3 separate regions of the Homo sapiens genome follow, and all the other regions are linked to region 1. Evidence: fine-mapped expression QTL. A gene starts in region 1. Each other region holds a variant in brackets. All regions are shown on one strand. Distances are between the middles of the regions.

The links. PIP is the estimated chance that this variant, and not a neighbour inherited with it, causes the effect.
Region 2: its variant is the best candidate, but not a certain one, in a credible set for the expression of SACM1L in whole blood (TOPMed, PIP 0.54).
Region 3: its variant is the best candidate, but not a certain one, in a credible set for the expression of SACM1L in whole blood (INTERVAL, PIP 0.67).

The regions. Positions count from the first base shown.
Region 1 is chr3:45,687,450-45,691,560 of GRCh38, forward strand. SACM1L (SAC1 like phosphatidylinositide phosphatase) reads left to right here and starts at 1,947. Exons shown (of 20, transcript NM_014016.5): 1 at 1,947-2,048. The coding sequence starts at 2,017. LIMD1-AS1 (LIMD1 antisense RNA 1) reads right to left here and starts at 1,433. Exons shown (of 3, transcript NR_033947.1): 1 at 927-1,433. TRR-ACG2-1 (tRNA-Arg (anticodon ACG) 2-1) reads right to left here and starts at 1,622; the gene lies at 1,550-1,622. RefSeq lists enhancers at 749-818, 1,329-1,378, 1,639-1,928 and a silencer at 1,959-2,138.
Region 2 is chr3:45,527,486-45,531,596 of GRCh38, forward strand. All of the region lies in intron 20 of LARS2 (leucyl-tRNA synthetase 2, mitochondrial), which reads left to right. Among named protein-coding and RNA genes, the nearest start is that of LARS2-AS1, 20 kb to the left of the region's middle. The variant A/T (reference allele first, on the strand shown) is at 1,976.
Region 3 is chr3:45,635,321-45,639,431 of GRCh38, forward strand. It overlaps LIMD1 (LIM domain containing 1), which reads left to right. Exons shown (of 8, transcript NM_014240.3): 2 at 830-931. Among named protein-coding and RNA genes, the nearest start is that of LIMD1, 43 kb to the left of the region's middle. RefSeq lists an enhancer at 3,737-4,031. The variant AT/A (reference allele first, on the strand shown) is at 2,428.

The sequences.
Region 1 (4,111 bases):
GAAACCCCGTCTCTACTAAAAAATACAAAAAATTAGTCGGGCGTGGTGGCACACACCTGTAGTCCCAGTTACTTGGGAGGCTGAAGCAGGAGAATTGCTTGAACCCGGGAGGCAGAGACTGCAGTAAGCCGAGATCACGCCACTGCACTCCAGCCTGGGTGACAGAGCGAGACTCCGTCTCAAAATAATAATAATTCAACACAGGGTCTCATTCTGTTGCTCAGGCTGGAGTGCAGTGGCATGGTAACAGCTCACTGCAGCCTCAACCTCCTGGGCTGAGGTGATCCTCCCACCTCAGCCTCCTGAGTAGCTAGGACTATAGGTGCACACCACCACACCTGGCTAATTAAAATTTATTTATTTATTTAGTAAATAGAGATGAGGTCTTGCTATGTTGCCCAGGCTGGTCTCGAACTCCTAAGCAGCATCATTTTTTCTAGGTGTTAAACTGACAACCACCCAAATTCCCAGCATAAGGATTCTGCTTAAAATATCTAGCTCTCTGATGAAATATCTTCAAAGAATATTTAATGACCTTAAATCTCAGACAAAAAGGTAAGGAGACAAAATGAGGAACCCATTTCCGTACAACCCCAATTTGGAAAAACACATGTGCAAGTATGCCCATGTTAAAAAATATAGAAGAAAAAAAGGCTTTAAGGAAAAAAAAAATAATAGTAATGATTTAGGGTGGGAATCGCGTTAATATTCCCAATAATTTTATATATTTTAAAAATCTATAATTTTATCAGGGGAAAACGTTATGTTGCGGAAATTAATTGATCGATTGAGTGATTGGTTAACGGACAGTGTCCGATGACTCATATAATCCCCCGGTTCGAGTCCCTTTAGGCCGCAGACGTTTCGCGCCTTCTCGGGTGTCCAAGTCGCGCATCCATACAATGAGGGGTAATATACTAGATTACCTGAGGTCTTCTTACGGTAAAAACACCGGTGTCTTAAGGTTTCCCAGTGGAATTTGGGGGCCGGGTTGACTTCGGAGCTGGAGCTCGCAAAGGCCGGGGCTGCTGCAGATTCTGACGCTTTGTGGACCCCTACTACCGAGCGCAGCCGCACCGCAGGTTTTCTTCGCTGCTGGTTAGATCCAAAGCCCATCCCATCCTAGTAAACTGGGACAGCGCCGCTTCTCACATCACTATGGGGGCTTCTGCTCCGTGGCGGGGAAAGGCCAGAACTGCTGCCTTAAATACGCTTTTGCATCATCCGGTTGCTAACCTCCGGCCACAGCATTCCCCACTCCAAAATGCCACTTTTCCAGGTGTGTTTGCCTAAATTTACCCCATTTACAGACTTCTCAGGTGCATCATTGGGAACAGGGCGCTTTGCAGTTTGCAAACCACCTCAGACAACTCCAGGTTTAAAGGATAAAGGATGACATTGTGAGCAAAGCGGCATCAAAATTTCAGATATTTAACTTTCACATTCTAACCATACACCTTTCCAAGGTCTTGTAATACTTTCACATTGTGAATATACATCTTTACAAGACCCAGTAGTACATGGGTCAAGTGTGGCAAAACAGACATCGCGAGCCAGCCAGGAGTCGAACCTAGAATCTTCTGATCCGTAGTCAGACGCGTTATCCATTGCGCCACTGGCCCCGACTTGCTAAAGCCTTCTCCGTGATAGCTGATCACCCTTATACAGTTTGAACGGGCTTCCGGGTACCAACGATCCATTTTGCCCTTGCGCCGCGCTCCCGCTGCTCTGCCTTTCCCCAAAACGCGCCCCACCAATCCGCAGCGGCTTCGTCACGGCGCTCTTCGTCGCACTCCAACCCGCCGCGTCGGCGGCATCTCTCGCGTGCTCTTGCTTGCGCACTAATTTGTCCTCCACCGCCTCCCGTTCAGGCCGGCTCTCCTGCGGGGCGGGGAAAGGGGTGGGAAGAGGCTGGGAGCTGCGGCCGCTGTGCCAGGGTGACCGGTAGAGTTGTAGCCGAGGTGGCGGCGCGGGGCGGGGCGGGCGGAGAGAGAAGGAAGGAGGTGGTTGTGCAGGATGGCGACGGCGGCCTACGAGCAGCTGAAGCTGTGAGTCCCACGGGCCAGAGGCCTGAGGCGCGGCGGGCGGGGCGGCAGGTGCGGGCCCTGGCCTCGGGGAGGGCTTCTGAGTCCCGGATTGCAGATAGGGTGTGGGAGCTCCTCGCATTTACCGGTTTTCCTCAGCCGGCGCGGCCTCTCCTAGGCCTCGCCCGAGTAGCCATAGGCCGGGAACCAGCGGCTCGCCGGCCTTTCTCCACCGTGCTCGGCCCCAGCGCCCACGGCTGAAGAGAGAAGCTGCCGACTGGCCCCCACCGAGCCGGGGTCGGCGTTATGATGCGGCCCTTCAGGGCACGCTTGTCCCCACTTTCTATGCAGAGCTACCGACTAAATTTATCTGTATGACTTAACAGAGAAAAAGAGTTTTCTCTTACTTAACGGACCTACAGCAGCAATTTAGAGTCTACGCACAAATCAACAAATCTTTGTTTTGCTTACAGCCTATCTGGGTACCGAAGCCTGCCTGCCCCCTCTTCAGTGTGCAGAAAAAATTTAAAGTACAGTCAGTAGTCTTAAGGTCCTGAAGGAGTTTACTTTGGTTTAAATTTTAAACAGCTCCAGCCTAAAGCAGGTTCTTAAGTCAGTGTCGACAGCCAGAGGCTAATCTCGGTAATTTTGGTACTGCAAATTGACTTTTCGGTAAATCCAAGTTCTTGAGTCTTTGATACAGAGGCTGTGGTTGTTAAGAGTTATAAAATAGGTGTTTTTAAGGGTTTTGGTTTGTCTTGGATTAAAAACAACATGTGTTTATTTCCCTTAGTGTTACCCATTAGCATCCACACTTTTCTTGTCTGTGAATAATTTTGTTGTACTCACTTCGTGTTTAATGCTTTACCCCTAGGCTGTTTGAAAATCTGGTGGCCACAGCCTGGGAATATCTGGTAGGAGAAACAAATGTAATTTTTTAGAAGCTTATCTATCCCTGTATATGAGCTAAAATACCTTGGCAGTTAGGCATAGATACCGCATTTCTTTTGCAGGGAAATGACACCAAAATGTGGTTTGGGCACTTAAGCTCCTCAGACCTCAACCTCACTAGTAACTTTCTGAAAGGTTCAGTGGAAAGTTAGAGGTGCAAAATTCAGAGAGGTCATCTATTCCACATTGTATGTGTTGCAAAAAAGATGATTGCTTTTTCTACAGTGCACCCCCTGTGGGTGCCATTTCTGTTTACTGTAATGTTCTTTGAAAACCCTAGCTGCACACTTCCCTCCACATTTTCCTCTCCACCTTTCCCTATTTTCTCCCAGTTCCCCTTTGCAAAGTGCTCACCTCGTCTTTGGTGAAAGAGTTGAAGGAAGTGTCTTCCACTGCGTTTCTGGCCAGGCCACTGTCACATGTGCTCTGCTAGCTAATTAGGTTATTGTGTATCTGATAGGCACTGAAGGGTTTAATGTGATCCTACACCAGGTCTCAAATGTGTTTAAGCCATATGGAGCCATGGCTTCATGCAGCTTAGCGTGGCAAAGATTGAATAGGATGGAGAACTTGAGAATTATGATGATTGTTTTTCAGCTGCCAGAACACTAAATTTAACCAGTTCAGACCTTAAAACAAACCCAAATCCTCGCATACATAAAAGAGAAAGGAAATTTGTCCCTGAAGTAGTAAGAATGATGTTTTTGTATTGATTTTTGTGAGAAGTGGAAACTCTTAAATTATTTGGGTGATAAAGTCAAACTGGGGTTATGTGAAAGTCATTCTCTCATTTGTCAGTCCTAGCTTTTTTTCCCCCTGAAAAAAAAGTTTAGAGTGTTTCTGTAAATGTGAAGGTACAACTTTTTTGCACCTTTTTCTTTACCAAGGGGTTTATGAGTTAGAGTTTCCATTTTTATTCCTTCCTTTTGGCCCTTCCTGCTCTGAGGCTGCTGTTGAAGGTTTTCAAATGTGGCTCCTGCCCTAAGGAGTATTCTTTTTTGGATGCATTTAGAAGTGAAATTGGTTTCTGTGTAAGAATTGGTAGGAGATAGTAGCCATTTTTTAAAATGTGTCTGGAGATGTGTTTTAAGAAATATCCATGCAAAAGAGATAGTTCGATTATTTTATTACAAAAG
Region 2 (4,111 bases), 160 kb before region 1:
TGGTGGCGGGCACCTGTAGTCCCAGCTACTCGAGAGGCTGAGGCAGGAGAATGGCATGAACCCAGGAGGTGGAGCTTGCAGTGAGCCGAGATCACACCACTGCACTCCAGCCTGGGCGACAGAGCGAGACTCCGTCTCAAAAAAAAAAAAAAGAAATCTTATCTTTAGGGAGATACACCTGAGCAAGGATAAAGTTGTAATTAGTAAAGAAATAGCAGTCCCTCATATCTGCCTAGAGAAGGGGATGTTTGATATTTTGTGTGTTTCACAGTGACCTTGTCTTTGTGCTTTGACAAAATTATGACATGGTCTTGTTTTGGTCTCCTTTTATGTTTTCAGTGTGACTGTCTGATGTTGGTGTTCAGTGAGATCATTTGTGTTGAACAGGAGAATAATATGGCCTAGCTATGCACAACTGGTGAATTTCTTATAACACTGAGGCCTAGCTATAATTGTCAGACCAGTTCCCAGATGATAAGGACTGAGAATAAAAATCCCCTAACCATCACCCTCTAGAAATAAACAGCCACCATCAGCATCTTAGCGCAGATCATTGCAGTGGATATGGTGGCTGGGTGCAGTGGCTCACGCTTGTAATCCCAGCACTTTGGAAGGCCCAGGCAGGAGGATCACTTGAGCCCAAGAGTTCAAGACCAGCTTGGGCAACATAGGGAGACCCCATCTCTACAAAAAATTTTAAAATTATCTGGATGTGGTGGCATGTGTCTGTAGGCTCAGCTACTCGGGAGGCTGAGGTGGGAGGATCACTTGAGCCCAGGAGTTCACGGCTGCAGTGAGCCATAATCATGCCACTGTACTCCAGCCTGGCTGACAGAGCAAGAGCCTGTCTCACAAAACATAGAAAAAGTAAAATGATTGTGTTCACTTACCTATGTGTATTGTATTTTGTGTCCACTTGTCTGTGTTGTGTTGTGTTTTGTCATGTCTCTTTATAAAATTTAAATACCCTAAAATTTACCCATTTTAAGTATATACTCAGTGTTTTAAGTAAATTTATATACTTGTGCACCCATCACCATGATCAGTTTTAGAACTGGATTTCCATTACTGAAAAAAGGTTCCCCACACCATTAGTCAATCCCACACCCACTCCAACCCCCAGCATGACTAATCTTTCTGTCTCTGTAGTTTTGCCTTTTCCAGAAATGTTATATAAATGAAATCATACAATGTGTAGTCATTTCTGTTTTATTTCATTTAGCATAATGCTTTTGAGATTAATCCATGTTCTGTTTATAGTAGTTCATTCCCTTTTATTGATGACTTGTTTTATTGTTAAGCGAGAGGTCATCTTATAACCTGATTTACTCACTTAAATATTCCATGAACATATATTTATGGGCCATTAAATACTTTTCTACAACATCTTTTTTTTTTTTTGGAGATGGAGTCTCACTCTGTTGCCTAGGCTGGAATGCAGTAGTACAATCTCCACTCACTGCAACTTCCCCTCCCAGGTTCAAGAGATTCTCCTGCCTCAGCCTCCCAAGTAGCTGGGATTACAGGCACCTGCCACCACGCCTGGCTAATTTTTGTATTTTTGGTAGAGACAGGGTTTCACCGTGTTGCCAGTCTGGTCTCAAAACTTCTGACCTCAGGGGATCTGCCTGCCTCGGCCTCCCAAAGTGCTGGGATTGCAGATGTGAGTCACCGCGCCCGGCCTACAACATCATTTTTAATGGTCATACAGTTTTCCATTGTTTGAATTTACGCACTCCCTATCATTGAACATTCAAACTGTTTATAGTTATACATTATTTTTTTAAAAGCTAAGTAGCCGCCGGGCACGGTAGCTCACACCTGTAATTTCAGCACTTTGGGAGGCTGAGGTGGGCTGATCACCTGAGGTCGGGAGTTCGAGACCAGCCGTCAGGCTCTACTAAAAATACAAAATTAGCCGGGCGTGGTGGCGCATGCCTGTAATCCCAGCTACTCAGGAGGCTGAGGCAGGAGA[A/T]TCGCTTGAACCCAGGAGGCAGAGGTTGCGGTGGGCTGAGATTGCGCCATTGCACTCCATCCTGGGCAATGAGAGCGAAACTCCATCTCCAAAAAAAAAAAAAAAATGCTAAATAGCTAATGTTTACGTGCAAAATTATTTCCTAAGAACACATAACTAACTGTAATTGCTTGGTCAGAAGAGATACAAAAGATTAAGGCTTTTGATGCACACTCTCAAATCAAATTCCAGAAATTCTCTGGGTCTTCTGTGAATATGCCTGAACAGAAACATGAGCAGATATTATGATTCCAGATGTTAAATATGGACTTTTCAATCCCTTTGTGATAAACCCATTCTGCAAACTGGAGTAGCCCAACCTGGGCCCATCCCATGTCTTTGAAATCCTGAGTGATTGCTCACACCTTTGCAGCTGTGAGGATGGGTAACAGGGGCCCATACACCTGGGCCCAGAGCGAGGAGATATGTCTTAGAGGAGCTCAAGCAGCAGGCTGTGGTGGTGGTGTCAGCATCAGAGCCCTAGTGCATCCTGTCTGGACAGACTTCAGAGAGTCAGTCAAAACACGACTTCAGAGAGTCAGTCAGAACACAGAGCAACAGTTTGACCATCTTTGCTTTACACTGGGCTTAGGTCGGTTTCTCAGGTTAGCAAAAAATTAAATTCTCAGTATTTCCAGTTTAACAATATGATATTTAAGAATATGATATTTGGAGTTTTTTGTTTGTTTGCTTGTTTGTTTTTGTTTTTTTAACATATAAACTTTTAAAATAACCACATTAGGCTGGGCGCTGTGGCTCACGCCTGTAATCCCAGCACTATGGGAGGCCGAGGCGGGCGGATCATGAGGTCAAAGATCAAGACCATCTTGGCCAACATGGTGAAACCCCATCTCTATTAAAAATACAAAAATTAGCTGGGCATGGTGGCATGTGCCTGTGAAGTCACATACTCAGGAGGCTGAGGCAGGAGAGTTGCTTGAACCCGGGAGCTAGAGGTAGCAGTGAGCCAAGATCGCACCACTACGCTCCCACCTGGTGACAGAGCAAGACTCCGTCTCAAAAAAAAAACTGCATTAATTGTCCATGTGTGCCATGACTTAGTGTGTCTAACATTTCACTCCCATAAACAATCCACCATGGACAATTCTGTGCATAAATCTTGTTCTCACTTCATATTATTTCCTTGAAGTGGAAAAGATATGAATCTATTTAAGACTCTTGATATATATTAACAAATTATTTTCCTAAGAAGTTATTCCATCTTCCACTCTAGGATCTGTTTTTGAATTGTACATTGTGCTTCAATGATTTAACTATTGCATTTTTACAGACAGTTTTAACACCTGGCAGACTAGCCTTTCTTCATTTCTTTTCTTATAATTATTTTACCTCTTCTCACCTGTTTATTTTTCTCAGCAAAACTCTGCATAATTTGTTAAGTTTCCCCAAAATCACCATGACATTTCAATTGAAATGTGGTTAAACTTAGAATTAATTCAGGAAGGTTTCACATCTTTACCTCATCCAAACTTTCATCCTAGCTCATGGTCTGTCTCAAGTATTTTCTTTTCTTTTGTGTTCTTGTAGAATAGAATCTCTTTCTGCTATATTTTCTGACTGATAATGGCTGGCATATTTTTCTTCTGTAAAACCACATTGACACCAACATTTGTTTTATTTCAGTTAAGATTTATTGTGAGTTGATAGTCTTCTTAATGTTGTCAAATAAAGGTTAATACCATGGAAATCTGATCAGTTAAGAAAAATATATGTAGACTGATAAAAAACTATAAGAAAGAATTAATCTATTAATCTAATAGATTAATCCAAGTAACATGAATCCTCTGGAATATATGAGGAAAATAACTCATTATTTTCTTAGTATAATTGATTTTTTAAATCTTTTAAATTTTTTTAAATTTATTTTTATTTTTTGAGGCAGGGTCTCACTCTGTTGTCCAGGCTGGAGTACAGAGGCACAATCTGGGCTTATTGCAGCCTTGACCTCCTGGGCTCAAGCAGACCTCGTGCCTCAGCCTCCCAAGTAGCTGGGACTGTAAGCACATGCCCCTACGCCCGGCTAATTTTTGTATTTTTTCTTTTTATAGAGATGGTGTCTCACTGTGTTGCCCAGGC
Region 3 (4,111 bases), 52 kb before region 1:
CTGAGGAAGGAATCGTGGGGCAGGCTGAGATGAAAGCCTCAGGACTTGAGTGAACAGAAGGGCAGGAGTAGAATGTACTAGGTAGGGGCCCATCAGCAAAGGCTGGGCTAAGACCCTGTGGGACTTGTTAGGGGGTGAGGAGCTGCTGGTAGAAGGGCAGGGAAGAGCACTTGCTTGCAGTCTGACAAACCCAGGGCTTGGGGTGTGATATACTTTTTGTAAAAATTGAGGTTACTAAATCCTAGTTGGTGGTTCCCACTGAAAATTAAAGGAAATAATTTAGTTGGAATTGTCTGGCCAGGCATGGTGGCTCACACCTGTAATCCTAGCACTTTAGGAGGCCGAGGCGGGAGGATTGCTTGAGCCTAGGAGTTCAAGACCAGTCTGGGCAACATATCAAGATCCCCGTCTCAAAAAAAAAAAAAAAAAAAAAAAAAAAAGGGAGGAAAAAAGAAATTTCCCAACCTGCATGCTTGGCATATTATAGTGATGGTGCAATCTTTCTGAACTGTCTTACAAACAGTGGGAACCTTCGAAAGCTTTGGGTGGGGTGAGGGAGGGAGTTGACCAAGCCCAGGAATTCTGGACATTAGCATAACAGTGGGGCAGGGAAAGTGGGACCTAAAGTCCAGCCTGGTAGCTGTTTTCTGCAGTTGAAAGAGTGACAGAGGGAGAGGGAGAGAAAGACACTTCAAATGAGTCATCCACTGGATTTGGTGGTGGGCTGGCCATGGGGAGGGATGGTATTATGCTTTGTTCATTGGCTTTTTTATGACTCAGTTTACACTGGTTCCCTCCTGACTCACTGATGTTTCTCTTGTCCTGCAAGGAGCCTGTGTGAAATGCAGCAAAGGGGTGTTTGGGGCTGGCCAGGCCTGTCAGGCCATGGGGAACCTCTACCATGACACATGCTTCACCTGTGCAGCTTGCAGTAAGTGTGGGTGTGGGTGTCGGGTGTGTGGGGGATGCGTAAGGAACATGGGAACCGAGAAAGGGAGGAGAGAGATCATCTTTCTGGAGACGGTTGGTCCATGGCCCTCCTCAGCCCCACAGAAAAGCCAGACAGTGTCTTTTACAGCAGGGTTTCTTACCACCAACAGAAGCCCATCAGGGCACGGTGACTTAACACAATACCAAAGATTGCCTGTGATTCTGGTGATAAGTTGAATGAGTTCAGAGTGATCCCTAATCACATCAGGTTTGAAATATGTAAGAAGAGGTTTCAGAAGATTTGGGAGGAAGTGCTGGGATTCACCATGTCTACCCTGTTTGTCAGTTCTCTCCCCCACTGTGGGGACCAGCCAACCAAAAGTGATTAGTCAGTCAGCTACCCCAGTGTGAGGTGGAGGTGGGGGTCCTTTATTACTCTGTAACCACCTCCCTAACCTAATCTTTGATTTGGAGGCTGCTGTATGAGCATGAGGTGTGTGTGCATGCCACCCATGTGCTGGTGCCTACCTAGCACACACCTGTGGGCATCTTTGTACTCCAGTACATGCATTATAATTCAAGCAGCCCATCAGGAGTCTGGATTGAATGGATGGCAACCGCTCCCCGTGGAAGATTCTAACACATTGCATGCTTGCCAAGTCTGACCAAGTTATGGATTTTGCTTGTTTTCTGTCTCTATCAAAGATTAATTTTGAGGAGTATTTTTGGAAAATGTCCTACTTATATTCTCAATCCTATACTGAGGCTAACAGCTCTCAACTAAAAGGGAATGTTACAGCAGAGTCACAGGGTGTCAGGAACAAAGGGGTCTTTCTAACCATCTGGCCCCGTGGTTTGCAATCCTGGCTGCTCATTAGAATCACCTGTGGAGACTTTAAAACCCTGCTAATCAGAATCAGAGCTAAATCCTAATCTGATAGGATTAGCTAGGAACCTCAATCTGATTCTGCTAATCAAGGGTGGGGCCAGGGCATCACCCTTGGAATTTCTAGAGTGAGGCAAGTGTATTAATTTTTTTTTTTTTTTTGAGACGGAGTCTCGCTTTGTCACCCAGGCTGGAGTGCAGTGGTGCTATCTCAGCTCACTGCAACCTCCGCCTCCTGGGTTCAAGCGATTCTTTTGCTACAGCCTCCCGAGTAGCTGGGACTACAGATGTGCACCAGCACGCCCAGCTAATTTTTGTATTTTTAGTAGAGACGGGGTTTCACCATGTTGGCCAGGATTGTCTCGATCTCTTGACCTTGTGATCCACCCACCTCGGCCTCCCAAAGTGCTGGGATTACAGGCGTGAGCCACTGCGCCCGCCCAAGTGGGGCAAGTGTATTTTTTCACAGCTTCTCAGATACTTCCAGGGTGTGATCAGGGCTGACTACCATTGGTTTGGGGATCCTCATTTTGAATCCTTCTGGAGAAGGGAAGGGGAAGAACTTGCTCACAGCCAGAGATCCTAATTCCCAGTATAAAGTTAACCAGTGC[AT/A]TGTGGTTAACCAGTGGCCTCCTAACCTGCTGAGCCTTGATGGTCCAGGCCTGAGTTCTGAACCTCATGCTTCAGTCCTCACTGCAATTTGCCTTAGAACACATGCCTGAGAGTTTATGGTTTACACATTGATCAGTGTTCACCTGTGTAGGGAAAGACTATGAGAATGTCCGCAGTGGAAATCTAGGAGTGGTCTGGTTATCGAATTCTCTGGGTCTCTGTGCCTTTCCTTGTCTTTGAGCTATGTTGCACTCTGTAAGTTGTAGAATATTGATGGTACAACACATTCTTGTCTATAGCAATGCAGACTGTCTGGTGAGGTGCAGTTGATGATTGTTACCCTGTGGAGATTGACCAGTTTTGCAATCTATTTAGCAAATTGATTTCAACATTCCTGATGGCCTATGGTTCTTTGAATTCTCCCCATTAAACCCATTAATTGGTTCCTTTATTAATTGATGAGTTAAATAAAGTCTTTGGCACATGTTTGTGTTTTATCCATATGGGAGTTGTGTTTAGGCCCCCCTTTATTTATTTATTTAGTTAGTTAAATTTTAATTTTAGTTTTAGATTCAAGACGTGCAGGTTTGTTACAAAGGTATATTGTGTGAATCTGAAGTTTGAGCTTCTATTGGTCCTGTCACCCACACAGTGAACATAGTACCCAGTAGAAAGTTTTTCAGCTATTTGGTTTTCTGTTTCTTGTGTTTCTATGTTGCTGCAAAGGACATGATGTCACTTTTTTATGGCTGTGTAGTATTCCATGGTGTATATGTACCACATTTTCTTTATTCAGTTACTGCTGATGGGCACCTAGGTTGATTCCATGTCTTTGCTATTGTGAATAGTGTGGTGATAAACATACGAGTGCAGGTATCTTTGGTAGAAGATGTACTTTTCTTTGCATATATATCCAGTAATGGGATTACTGGGTCAAATGGTAGCTCTATTTTTAGTTCTTTGAGAAATCTCCTAACTGTTTTCCACAGTGGCTGAACTAATTTACACTCCCACCAACTGTGTATAAGCATTGCCTTTTCTCTATAGCCTTGCCAACATCTACTTTTTGACTTTTTAATAATGGCCATTTTGTGGTTTTGATTTGCATTTCTTTGATGATAATGATGTGGAGGTTTGTTTTGTTTTGAGATGGGGTCTCACTGTGTCATCCAGGCTGGAGTGCCATGATGTAATTGTAGCTCACTGCAGCCTTGAACTCAAGCAACCCTTCTGCCTTAGCTTCTGAGTAGCTGGGACTGCGGGCATGTGCCACCATGCCCAGCTAATGGTTTAAAATTTTTGTAGAGACAGAGGTCTCGCTGTGTTGCCTAGGCTGGTCTTGAGCTCCTGACTTCTGGTGACCCTCCCACCTCAGCCTCCCACAGGGCTGGGATTACTGGCATAAGCCACCACACCTGACCCTTGAGCATTTTTTTCATGTTTGTTGGCTGCTTGTATCAGATCTTTGTTTACAATTTATCTTTGACCTTTGACTCCTACAACAGTTTCTCAATACTTGCTCTATTTTTCAGGAAAAAGAAAATAAATATTAAGGAGAGGCTGTTTTCCACCTCAAGCAGTTACCATTTGAATTAGGGAAGCTGTTGGTGAGGGAAAACCAATTGATGAGCGTCTTAGTCTGTTTGGACTGTTATAACAAAGTACCATACACTGGTTGGCTTA